4 linked regions of the Homo sapiens genome follow. The protein of the gene in region 2 interacts with the protein of the main gene of each other region in a biochemical or structural test. Each region holds a gene or a part of one and is shown on either strand. Other genes may lie near its edges.

Region 1 (2,907 bases), on a different chromosome or scaffold from region 2:
AAGGAGGCACCCACAGGTCTAAACATGGCCCTGCTTTTTTTTTTCCTGAAAATTCCAATAACAAAAGCAACGAGAGCCTCTCACTACCAGGCCTTCTCTCACTTTGCTATAAAATTAGTTCACCCCTCTTTCTTAGAGTGTTGAGGTCCCTGCCCTCCCCACCTCCCTCCCCTGAAACAAGTTGAAAATATCTTAATGAACATAGAACAGTGATAAAGGAAGTGTTTGAAGTCCTCTTTGTACAGAGAGAGAGAGAAAGAGAATGCCAAAGCTAGGTTGGAGGAAGTAGAAGGGTATACGGTGGGCTCAGGCCCATGGGGGCCACACAGAGGAGCTCTGTGCACTTCAGAGACCAGAGCTTCCAGGGAGCTTCTGGCCACCACAGGAAGCAGCCTAGTCAGGCATTTTATTTCAATGGATAATTCAGTGGTCTTACTCAGAAATCAAGAACGAGACAGAAAAGTGATAGGCTAAGTGTAACGTATGGCCCCAGGGCAGCCATGGGGCAGAACTAGAAGAAAGCAAAATATCTAACTGGGCACAGCTTGAGAGGTGAGGGGAAGGTGGGGCTGGGAACGAGTAGAGATGAGGCAATGCAGCCAGGAGCAGGGACTGAGGGGCACAGGCCTCCTGCACCACTGCCCCACCCCACCAACCACCTCTTCTGTCTCCAGGAAGCAGCTTCTAGAGCTAGCATTCTTCTGGAGGACATGCATTATTTGGGCAAAATACAAAGAAATATACAAGCCTAAGTCAAGTAAGGGAATGCCTCCCACCCTTGCTATTTTCTCTAAATAGAGAGGCTGAGTACAGACGCGGAAAGAAACAAGGAGGTGTGGGAGCAGCCCGCCATGCTAGAGAAAGACTACATTCCTGCCACTAACAGTCGGTGGCCACTGGGCAAATCTTAAGTCTGTGGTGCCTCAGTTTCCTCATATGCAAAGCGGGTTTGTTCCATAGGCCTCTGAGGACAAAATGAGATTGCAGAAGTGAGATTGCAGATGGTTAGAAAAGACAAAGCCACACTGGTGTGAGTTTTCATGGTCCCCGGGACCACATCCTCAGAAGGATCCCTCCCACTTCTCCTGGGGGTTCCTGCAGTTCTGGGACAGGGGCATTCCCTGCAGACCAGACGTGAATGAAGCCGCTTAGCCAGCATCTTGTGAACGGCCTGCCTCATGTCCTGAGCCACTTACACATGTGTTTTTTCTCCCCAGGGTCTACGAAGAATAGGGTGAAAAACCTCAGAAGGGAAAACTCCAAACCAGTTGGGAGACTTGTGCAAAGGACTTTGCAGATTAAAAAAAAAAAAAAAAAAAAAAAAAAAAAAAAAAAAAAAAAAAGCCTTTCTTTCTCACAGGCATAAGACACAAATTATATATTGTTATGAAGCACTTTTTACCAACGGTCAGTTTTTACATTTTATAGCTGCGTGCGAAAGGCTTCCAGATGGGAGACCCATCTCTCTTGTGCTCCAGACTTCATCACAGGCTGCTTTTTATCAAAAAGGGGAAAACTCATGCCTTTCCTTTTTAAAAAATGCTTTTTTGTATTTGTCCATACGTCACTATACATCTGAGCTTTATAAGCGCCCGGGAGGAACAATGAGCTTGGTGGACACATTTCATTGCAGTGTTGCTCCATTCCTAGCTTGGGAAGCTTCCGCTTAGAGGTCCTGGCGCCTCGGCACAGCTGCCACGGGCTCTCCTGGGCTTATGGCCGGTCACAGCCTCAGTGTGACTCCACAGTGGCCCCTGTAGCCGGGCAAGCAGGAGCAGGTCTCTCTGCATCTGTTCTCTGAGGAACTCAAGTTTGGTTGCCAGAAAAATGTGCTTCATTCCCCCCTGGTTAATTTTTACACACCCTAGGAAACATTTCCAAGATCCTGTGATGGCGAGACAAATGATCCTTAAAGAAGGTGTGGGGTCTTTCCCAACCTGAGGATTTCTGAAAGGTTCACAGGTTCAATATTTAATGCTTCAGAAGCATGTGAGGTTCCCAACACTGTCAGCAAAAACCTTAGGAGAAAACTTAAAAATATATGAATACATGCGCAATACACAGCTACAGACACACATTCTGTTGACAAGGGAAAACCTTCAAAGCATGTTTCTTTCCCTCACCACAACAGAACATGCAGTACTAAAGCAATATATTTGTGATTCCCCATGTAATTCTTCAATGTTAAACAGTGCAGTCCTCTTTCGAAAGCTAAGATGACCATGCGCCCTTTCCTCTGTACATATACCCTTAAGAACGCCCCCTCCACACACTGCCCCCCAGTATATGCCGCATTGTACTGCTGTGTTATATGCTATGTACATGTCAGAAACCATTAGCATTGCATGCAGGTTTCATATTCTTTCTAAGATGGAAAGTAATAAAATATATTTGAAATGTACCAAAATTCTAGACTGCCACCTTTTTTCTATTTAATTAAGCTAGGATGACAATAAAATGTTTACCATGTCCTGAAAAAATAAGGACAAATATGCTGGGAAAGAAAACTGGTATTTCCCAAATACCTGTCAACACCATCACCTCTGTGGAACGTGTGGAGCTGTCATTACAGTCAGGAAGCCAAGAAGCCAGGCCTTGAGGCTAAGGCTCCTTCCCCGACGATTCCTACCCCTGCAGCAGGTGTATCAGAGCAGGCAGGTTGGAGCACAGGGAACTAGAGGGTCACGATCCCAGCCTCCTCCACGCAAGACCACACTGAGCCTCAGCACCAGAGGGCAGCAAAGAGGCTGGATGCCTCAGCCAAGGGCTCTCCAAGTTCCCTGGGGCTGCATAAGGACGGCAACAATAGAGGACTGGTGTAATTATTGCCTACTGTGAGCCAGACCCTGTGCGGGGAGCCTTACATGCCCTATCTCTTTGAATCCTGGTAACAACCACAACGGGGGT
Region 2 (2,584 bases):
ACCAGAGTCACTCCGTGAAATCACTAGGGAAGAAGCACGTTGAGAATAGAAAAAAGAGGTGAAATTAAGACCAGGATAAGCACACAACTCAGCCCTTTCTACTCAATGTCACCTTGTCGGGAAATAGGAAGAGAGGAAAAGCAGGATACAATTTTCCTGATACTGGAAAGGTTTAACCAAATTCTTAGATTTTAAAACCTCACTGTTTACCAAAGTGGGGGTAGATGGGGCTGTTGGAGATCTGGTCATTAATCTCTGAAGATTACACCAGTGTCAGCATCAAACAGAATTTGACTCCTCCCTAGTCTAGCAGTTTTGTGTTTGTTATTTTGTTCTGTTTTTTGAGTAGGGGGTCTTGCCATGTTGCCCAGGTTGGTCTCAAACTCCTGGGCTCAAGTGATCCTTCCACCACAGCCTCCCAAGGATCTGGGGTTAGAGGTACACACCACCACACCCAGTTTAGTCTACCAGTTTTTAAGTGTCATATAAAAAGTAAATTGGCAGCCGGGCACAGTGGCTCATGCCTGTAATCCCAGTACTTTGGGAGGCCGAGGCAGGCGGATTGCTTGAGGCCAGGAGTTCAAGACCAGCCTGGCCAACATGGTGAAACCCCGTCTCTACTAAAAATACAAAAATTAGCGGGGCATAGTGGTGCATGCCTGTAATCCCAGCTACTCGGGAGGTTGAGGCACGCGAATTGCTTTAATCCGGGAGGTGGAGGTTGCAGAGAGTTGAGATCATGCCACTGCACTCCAGCCTGGGCGACAGAGTGAGACTCTGCCTCAAAAAAAAAAAAAAAAAAAAACTAAATTGGCAAATGTTAAACTGATTGATATTATGATATTATCAAGAATGGGATATATCAGGATCCTTATACACTATTGACGGAAGTAAAATAAATTTGGCTGTATCAAAATTGTAAATGAGTATAATAACTTTAGTAATCTTACTTTAGGAAATCTCAACAATGGAATACTAGCATGGATGCTCAAAATATAGGTACAAGAATATTAATTATAGCAGTATTTGTATTGACAAATAAATGGGGGAAATTTTCTTCAAAGGCAAATTGGGAAAAACTAATTACTGTCAAAAATAATTAAGTAAACCAGGGGCAGTGGCTCAGGCCTATAATCCTAGCTACTCAGGAGGCTGAGGCAGGAGGATCCAGTAAGCCAAGGAGCTCAAGACCAGCCTGGGCAACATAGCAAGATCCTGTCTCTAAAATAAATATAATAATAACAATAATAATAAAAATAATAATAATAATAATGAGATAAATCATTATGTGTTGGCTGGAGAGATATCCACAATATATTAATGAAAAAAAAATGATGTAGAGACCCCCTATTTCACATCCTTCATTAACGTAAGTTTCAGGTGGATTACAGATCTAAATTTGAAAGACAAATTTACAAGGAAATACAGGAGAATATATTCACAACCTTGAGGTATGAAAGCCTTTCTTAAACAAAATACAAAATGCACAAACCATAAAGTAAAAGAGTAAATAAATCTGACTTCACTGAGATTATGAAATTTTGATCATCAAAAGAATAAAATGACAAGCTGCCAAATAGGAGACGATATCTGTAACATACACAACCTTCAAAGGATTAGTATTCAGAATACATATATAAGGAATTGCTACAGACCAGTGAGAGGAGGGCAGGAAATACAACAGACAAACGGGCAAAAATACTTGAATAGCCACTTCACAGATGATGAAACCCAAACAGCTAATAAACAGATGCAATGGCACTCAACCTTATTATTACAAGGAAAATGTGAATTAAAACTAAAGTGAGGCCAGGTGCAGTGGTTCATGCCTGTAATCCCAGCACTTTGGGAGGCCAAGGCAGGGGGATCACCTGAGGTCAGGAGTTCGAGACCAGCCTGGCCAACATGGTGAAACCCCGTCTCTACTTAAAATACAAAAAAATTAGCCGGGCGTGATGGTGCACATCTGTAATCCCAGCTACTTAGGAGGCTGAGACAGGAGAATTATTTGAACCCGGGAGGCAGAGGTTGCAGTGAGCCAAGATCACGCCACTGCACTCCAGCCTGGACAACAGAGTGAGACTCCATCTCAAAAACAAAAACAAAAAAAATGGGGAGAGACATAAACATTCAGACCATAATATATACATAAAGTTTAAAAATGAGAAAAAATAAACTAAATTATTTAGGAATCTATACACATAGGTGGTAAATAATAAAGAAAAGAAAGTAAATAATTACTATAAAAGTCAAGATTATCACTGTGAGGGGGAGAGAAAGCAGTGATCAGAAAAGGAGGGGTGCTGTTGGCAATATTCTATTTCTTTCTTTCTTTCTTTTTTTTTTTTTTTTGAGATGGAGTTCTGCTCTTGTTGCCCAGGCTGGAGTGCAATAGCGCAATCTCGGCTCACTGCAACCTCCGCCTCCCGGGTTGAAGCAATTCTCCTGCCTCAGCCTCCTGAGGAGCTGGGATTACAGGGATGCGCCACCACACCCAGCTAATTTTGTATTTTTAGTAGAGATGGATTTCTCCATGTTGGTCAGGCTGGTCTCGAACCCCTGACCTCAGGTGATCTGCCTGCCT
Region 3 (4,051 bases), about 34 Mb from region 2:
GATTGAGACCATCCTGGCTAACACGGTGAAACCCCGTCTCTACTAAAAATATAAAAATTAGCCGGGTGTGGTGGTGGGCGCCTGGAGTCCCAGCTACTCGGGAGGCTGAGGCAGGAGAATGGCGTGAACCCGGGAGGCAGAGCTTGCAGTGAGCCGAGATCGCGCCACTGCACTCCAGCCTGGGCGACAGAGTGAGACACCGTCTCAAAACAAAACAAAACAAAAAACAAAAATTAGCCAGGCATGGTGGTGGGCGCCTTTTTTTTTTTTTTTTCCAGAGTCTCACTCTGTCACCCAGGCTGGAGTGCAGTGGCTCAATTTCAGCTCACTGCAACCTCTGCCTCCCGGGTTCAAGCGATTCTCCTGCCTCAGCCTCCCGAGTAGCTGGGATTACAGGCGCCCGCCACCACGACCAGCTAATTTTTGTATTTTTAGTAGAGACGGGGTTTCACCATGTTGGCCAGGATGGTCTTGATCTCTTGACCTTGTGATCCACCCGCCTTGGCCTCTCAAAGTGCTGGGATTACAGGCGTGAGCCACTGTGCCTGGCTGATAGTGGGCGCTTTTAATCCCAGCTACTCTGGAGGCTGAGGCAGGAGAATCACTTGAACCCAGGAGGTGGAGGTTGCAGTGAGCCGAGATCACGCCATTGCACTCCAGCCTGGGCGACAATAGCAAAACTCTGTCTCAATGAAACAAAACAAAACACCAACCAAACAAACAAAAAATTGTTTTAATACAAAGTAAAGAGCTCTCAGTAAATGTCAATGTCTAGACAAGCAGAGATGAAACACACAGATGAATTAGACCTAGTGTTGTCTTCAGGGAGCTCCCGGGAAACTGATCTCTGCAGAAAGGGGGAAGCACAGGCACTGTGGGGGGTGCCCAGAGGAGGAGGAGGTGATGCCAGAAAGTTCTGGGGGGATGAGCAGGTGGAATGAATGAGCCGAGGATGAGCTGATGAGATAGTGGAGGAAGCTGGGGTGCAATTCTCTGCCTAAATGGCCTTTGGAGTTCTCTGCAATCTCACCTCTGCCAGAACTAACCTCCAGAGGCCGAGTCTGAGTCCCTGCAGAGCCCAGCCCAGCAGGAGCAGGGAAAGGGAGGACTCGAGCCCTCCAGGTGTCTCCCAACCGCGGCCTCTGAGGGCAAGGGGCAGCGCATTCTGTTGGAACCTCGGACTGCAGTGCCAGGCAGGTAGTTCCCAAGGCTGGAGGCCAGGATCGAAGGGCTGGGCTGGGCCTGGCTCTGATAGCAAAACAATCAGACCACAGCCCAACCCCCTTCCCAGGCAAAGGCCAAGGACTTGGACCCATCAGACCCAGCCGAGGGGCAGGTGGGTCAGGTGGGGGCAGACAGGGAAGGAGGGTGGGACCCTGGGTCTGCCGCCCAGCCAGGGACCCTGCTTTGGCCAGCTGCTGAAACTCAGAGGATGTAGGACCCAGTGTCAGGGCTCCCGTGGGGACACCCCAGGCCCAGGAATTGTCCTTTGGCGACTGAAATCCTCAAGTGCTTGCTCTGCGGTAGGGAGTGGGGAAGAAGGAAAGAGTTCCCTATTAATAACAGGAACAGTTACTATTGCCGCCGCCAGACATGAGGCCTAGTCTTTTGCAGGCATGAGCTCACTGGACCCTCAAGTCAGAGCCATGCAGTGGGAATTTTAGATTCCCACTTTGCAGCTGAGGAAACGGAGGCTCCTAAAGGTTTAGGAAGCCGGGCACAGTGGCTCAAACCTGTAATCCTAGCACTTTGGGAGGCTGAGGCAGGCGGATCGCCTGAGATCAGGAGATCGAGACTACTCTGGCCAACATAGTGAAACCCCATCTCTACTAAAAAATACAAAAATTAGCCGGGCATGGTACACACGCCTGTAGTCCCAGCTACTTGGGAGGCTGAGGCAGAAGGATCGCTTGAGCCCAGGAGGCGGAGGTTGCAGTGAGCCAAGATCGCGCCACTGCACTCCAGCCAGGGTGACAGAGTGAGACTCTGTCTCAAAAAAAAAAAAAAAAAAATGGTTTAGGAGCAACTAACTCTCAGCTGGACTGCATGGAGGGACCAGGATGGGAATCCACTCTTGTCAGTCTCCAGGGCCCTGATCTCCAACCCCACCCCTGGCTCGGCAGGATTAGGATTCTACAATACATCCCTGGCAGTAACTGGCTTTGCCCACAGCTGGAAGCCACCCTCTGCTCCCTCACATCTTTAGGAGTCTTGCAAAAGACTCCATGGGGCTCTCGAAGAAGGAACTGGGGACTCTCCATCTCCCCGACCCCATCCCAAGAGCTAACCAAACACCAGGAGTTCCTGCATGTCAGGAGCGGGAGAATTCAGTGGAGATGGGATTGGGGAGACTTCCGGAGGAGATAAGAGACAAAAGGGGTGGGGTGGGGGCATGGGGAGAGGGGCACTTGGTGGTAGGCATTGCCGAACACAGTACCTTGGGTGTGGACAGCGGGGGCCCAGGCTCCCAGGAAGCCGGCCACCAGGCAGGCCAGGAGCCACAGGTTCATGCTGCAGGCGGGTCCTCCTCCCTGGGCACCTGGACGAATAACGGGGCCACCTGGGGTCGTGGAGGGAAGTGGTAAGGACTGAGGAAGAGGAGGGGAGTGGGTACTGGGAACATCCCCCCTCTTAAGCCCCAGGCATATGGCAAGGGAAGGAGGTTGTATAAAGTAGGAACAAGTTGTGCTGGAGGGAAAAGCTGTTCATCTCAGTCATGTTCAAGGAAAAGACTCACCGATATCCACTGGGTCAAGGGAGCTGATGCCCGCCGGGCTGTAGGCCAAGCTGTCCCATCTGCAGGACCAACACGCTGAGCTTCACTCTTTATAGACAGAGCCCCACCCAGCCACCCCCTGCCCGCCCTCCTCCCTTCCTCCTCCTCTCCACCTGCACTCTCAGCCTCTGGAATTCTCCCTCTTCTACAGCAAGCTCCAACCTCGACCCACAGGCCCCCTTGCCTCCCCACTCCCCATCCCAGGCCTCCCAGCCAGCACCCCTACTGTCTCCAGAAAGGGCCTTTTCCCCTGTTTCCCTCACCTGCACACACCTGGTGGACACTGGCTGCCTGCGAACAAGGCTCAGACTGCCTTGAGCCCCCAAACAAGCCCTTACCTTCATGCTCCCCCCGCCCTCAAGCCACCTGTTCCCTGGTGGGTCCCCAACTTCACTCCATTTCCCTCTCCTTCCACACCATGGTTAGGTAACTTAGCATGTCACAGAAATCCTCTGGTTGTGATCACAGGCAAATCCATAGAAACAGAAAGTAAATTAGCGGTGGCCACAGGATGGGGGGAGGGGAGAATGAAGGACTGACTGTGAGAGGGTATGGGTTTCCTTTTGTTCTGAAATTAGATGAGAGTGATGGTTACATAACTCTATGAATATAGTCAGCACGGCACAATGGTGCACCTCCCACCGGTGAACAACCCCAACAAGAAAGAAACTCTCTAGGCCAGGCATGGTGGCTCATGTCTGTAAGCCCAACACTTTGGGAGGCCGAGGCCAGAGGATTGCTTGAGCCCAGGAGCTCAAGACCACCCCGGGCAATATAGAGAGACCTGCGTCACTACAAAAATTTTTTAAAAAATTAGCCTGACGTAGTAGTGCATACCTGTAGTCCCAGCCACTCAGGAGGCTGAGGTGTGAGGATTGCTTGAGCCTTGGAGGTTGAGGCTGCAGTGAGCTGTGATCATGCCACTGCACTCCAGCCTGGGCAACAGAGCAAGACCCTGTCTCAAAAAATGGAAAAAAAAACGGTGGCCGGACACAGTGGCTCACACCTGTAATACCAGCACTTTGGGAGGCCGAGGCAGGCGGATCCTCTGAGGTCAGGAGTTCGAGACCAGCCTGGCCAACATGGCAAAACCCCATCTCTACTAAAATTACAAAAATTAGCCGAGTGTGGTGGGGGGGCACCTGTAATTCCAGCTACTCAGGAGGCTGAGGCAGGAGAATCGCTTGAACCCGGGAGGCGGAGGTTGCAGTGAGCCGAGATTGGGCCACTGCATTCCAGCCTGGGCGACAAGAGTGAAACTCTGTCTCAAAAAAA
Region 4 (3,500 bases), on a different chromosome or scaffold from region 2:
TCTAGAAGAAATGGATAAATTCCTGGACACATACACCCTCCCAAGACTAAACCAGGAAGAAGCTGAATCCCTGAATAGACCAATAACAGGCTCTGAAATTGAGGCAATAATTAATAGCCTACCAACCAAAAAAAGTCCAGGACCAGATGGATTCACAGCTGAATTCTACCAGAGGTACAAGAAGGAGCTGGTACCATTCCTTCTAAAACTATTCCAATCAATAGAAAAAGAGGGAATCCTCCCTAACTCATTTTATGAGGCCAGCATCATCCTGATACCAAAGCCTGACAGAGACACAACAAAAAAAGAGAATTTTAGACCAATATCCTTGATGAACATCGATGCAAAAATCCTCAATAAAACACTCACAAACCAAATCCAGCAGTACATCAAAAAGCTTATCCACCATGATCAAGTGGGCTTCATCCCTGGGATGCAAGGCTGGTTCAACATACACAAATCAATAAACGTAATCTAGCATATAAACAGAACCAATGACAAAAACCACATGATTATCTCAATAGATGCAGAAAAGGCCTTTGACAAAATTCAACAACTCTTCATGCTAAAAACTCTCAATAAATTAGGTATTGATGGGACGTATCTCCAAATAATCAGAGCTATTTATGACAAACCCACAGCCAATATCATACGGAATGGGCAAAAACTGGAAGCATTCCCTTTGAAAACTGGCACAAGACAGGGATGCCCTCTCTCACCTTCCTATTCATCATAGTGTTGGAAGTTCTGGCCAGGGCAATTAGGCAGGAGAAAGAAAGGATATTCAATTAGGAAAAGAGGAAGTCAAAATGTCCCTGTCTGCAGACGACATGATTGTATATTTAGAAAACCCCATTGTCTCAGCCCCAAATCTCCTTAAGCTGATAAGCAACTTCAGCAGTCTCAGGATACAAAATCAATGTGCAAAAATCACAAGCATTCCTATACACCAATAACAGACAAACAGAGAGCCAAATCATGAGTGAACTCCCATTCACAATTGCCTCAAAGAGAACAAAATACCTTGAAATCCAACTTACAAGGGATGTGAAGGACCTCTTCAAAGAGAACTACAAACCACTGCTCAATGAAATAAAAGAGGATACAAAGAAATGGAAGAACATTCCATGCTCATGGATATGAAGAATCAATATCATGAAAATGGCCATACTGCCCAAGGTAATTTATAGATTCAGTGCCATCCCCATGAAGCTACCAGTGACTTTCTTCACAGAATTGGAAAAATCTACTTTAAACTTCATATGGAACCAAAAAGGAGCCCACGTTGCCAAGACAATCCTAAGCAAAACAGAACAAAGCTGGAGGCATCACACTACCTGACTTCAAACTATACTACAAGGCTACAGTAGCCAAAACAGCATGGTACTAGTACCAAAACAGAGATATAGGCCAATGGAACAGAACAGAGTCCTCGGAAATAATACCACACATCTACAACCATCTGATCTTTGACAAACCTGACAAAAATAAGAAATGGGGAAAGGATTCCCTATTTAATAAATGGTGCTGGGAAAACTGGCTAGCCATATGTAGAAAGCTGAAACTGGATCCCTTCCTTACACCTTATACAAAAATTAATTCAAGATGGATTAAAGACTTAAGTGTTAGACCAAAAACCATGAAAACCCTAGAAGAAAGCCTATGCAATACCATACATGCCATAGGCATGGGCAAGGACTTCATGACTAAAACACCAAAAGCAATGGCAACAATAGCCAAAATTGACAAATGGGATCTAATTAAACCAAAGAACTTGTGCACAGCAAAAGAAAATACCATCAGAGTGAACAGGCAACCTACAGAATGGGAGAAAAATTTTTACAATCTATCCATCTGACAAAGGGCTAATATCCAGAATCTACAAAGAACTTAAACAAATTTACAAGAAAAAATCAACCCCATCAAAAAGTGGGTGAAGGATATGAACAGACATTTCTGAAAAGAAGACATTTATGCAGCCAACAGACCATGAAAAAATGCTCATCATCACTGGCCATCAGAGAAATGCAAATCAAAACCACAATGAGATACCATCTCACACCAGTTAGAATGGCAATCATTCAAAAGTCAGGAAACAACAGGTGCTGGAGAGGATGTGGAGAAATAGGAACACTTTTACACTGTTAGTGGGACTCTAAACTAGTTCAACAATTGTGGAAGACAGTGTGGTGATTTCTCAAGGATCTAGAACTAGAAATACTATTTGACCAGCCATCCCATTACTGGGCATTTACCCAAAGGATTATAAATCATGCTGCTATAAAGACACATGCACATGTATGTTTATTGCAGCACTATTCACAATAGCAAAGACTTGGAACCAACCCACATGTCCATCAATGATAGACTGGATTAAGAAAATGTGGCACATATACACCATGGAATACTAGGCAGCCATAAAAAAGGATGAGTTCATGTCCTTTGTAGGGACATGGATGATGCTGGAAACCATCATTCTGAGCAAACTATTGCAAGGACAGAAAACCAAACACCGCATGTTCTCATTCATAGGTGGGAATTGAACAGTGAGAACACTTGGACCCAGGGTGGGGAACATCACACACCAGGGCCTGTCGTAAGGTGGGGGGAGCGGGGAGGGATAGCGTTAGGAGATATACTTATTGTAAATGATGAGTTAATGGGTGCAGCACACCTACATGGCACATGTATACATATGTAACAAACCTGCACATTGTGCACATGTACCCTAGACCTTTAAGTATAATAAAAAAAAATTGGTGTGGATGTATGTGTGGGTTCACATTGCTAAATGCATAGAGGAAATTCTGGAAGGATATGCAGAACCCTCTGGAGAGGGGAGAGGGATTAAAGGAATGATGAAGAGGGACTTTCCTTTTTTTAATTCTTTAAATTTTTATATTTGAAAATACACTAAGTATTTGTAACTTTCATAATATTAGGATAAATTCTTTAATTTTTGTGACATTTTTGGTAATTTTATTTTTTTGGTAATTTTTTACTTTTTTTTTTTTTTGAAATGAGAGTCTCACTCTTTCACCCAGGCTGAAGTGCAGTGGTGCGATCATGGCTCACTGCAGCCTCGAACTCCTGGGCTCAAGCAATCTTTCTGCCTCATTCTCCCAATTGCTGGGATTACAGGCAGCGAGGCCAAGGCAGGAGACTTGCTTGAGGCCAGGAGTTCAAGACCAGTCTGGGCAACATAGTGAGACTCTATCTCTACAAGAAAAATTTTTTTAATTAGCCAGGTGTGCCTGGGCATGGTGGCTCACACCTGTAATCTCAGCACTTTGTGAGGCCGAGGTGGGTGTATCACCTGAGGTCAGGAGTTTGAGACCAGCCTGGCCAACATGGTGAAACCCCGTCTCTACTAAAAATACAAAAATTAGCTGGGTGTGGTGGTGCACGCTTCTAATCCCAGCTACTCAGGAGGCTGAGGCAGGAGAATTGCTTGAACCCAGGAGGCGGAGGTTGCAGTGAGCCGAGATTGCACCATTGCA

What was found. The genes of interacting proteins can lie anywhere in the genome.
Region 1: the proteins of CXCL17 (region 2) and CXCL14 form a complex in vitro, tested with the Homo sapiens proteins (one large-scale study listed by BioGRID and IntAct).
Region 3: the proteins of CXCL17 (region 2) and CCL25 form a complex in vitro, tested with the Homo sapiens proteins (one large-scale study listed by BioGRID and IntAct).
Region 4: the proteins of CXCL17 (region 2) and CCL28 form a complex in vitro, tested with the Homo sapiens proteins (one large-scale study listed by BioGRID and IntAct).

The regions. Positions count from the first base shown.
Region 1 is NC_000005.10:135,570,179-135,573,085, reverse strand, and holds the end of CXCL14 (C-X-C motif chemokine 14 precursor), read left to right. Parts: intron 1-1,217; coding exon 1,218-1,233; 3' UTR 1,234-2,407; downstream 2,408-2,907. UniProt on the Homo sapiens protein: Potent chemoattractant for neutrophils, and weaker for dendritic cells. Not chemotactic for T-cells, B-cells, monocytes, natural killer cells or granulocytes. Does not inhibit proliferation of myeloid progenitors in colony formation assays.
Region 2 is NC_000019.10:42,430,363-42,432,946, reverse strand, and holds part of CXCL17 (C-X-C motif chemokine 17 precursor), read left to right. Parts: intron 1-2,584. UniProt on the Homo sapiens protein: Chemokine that acts as a chemoattractant for monocytes, macrophages and dendritic cells. Plays a role in angiogenesis and possibly in the development of tumors. Acts as an anti-inflammatory in the stomach.
Region 3 is NC_000019.10:8,051,509-8,055,559, reverse strand, and holds the start of CCL25 (C-C motif chemokine 25 isoform 1 precursor), read right to left. Parts: upstream 2,801-4,051; 5' UTR 2,797-2,800; coding exon of another isoform or gene 2,738-2,796; intron 2,561-2,737; coding exon of another isoform or gene 2,511-2,560; coding exon 2,438-2,510; intron 1,519-2,437; coding exon of another isoform or gene 1,448-1,518; exon of another isoform or gene 718-1,447; intron 1-717. UniProt on the Homo sapiens protein: Potentially involved in T-cell development. Recombinant protein shows chemotactic activity on thymocytes, macrophages, THP-1 cells, and dendritics cells but is inactive on peripheral blood lymphocytes and neutrophils. Binds to CCR9.
Region 4 is NC_000005.10:43,405,892-43,409,391, forward strand, and holds part of CCL28 (C-C motif chemokine 28 isoform a precursor), read right to left. Parts: intron 1-3,500. UniProt on the Homo sapiens protein: Chemotactic activity for resting CD4, CD8 T-cells and eosinophils. Binds to CCR3 and CCR10 and induces calcium mobilization in a dose-dependent manner.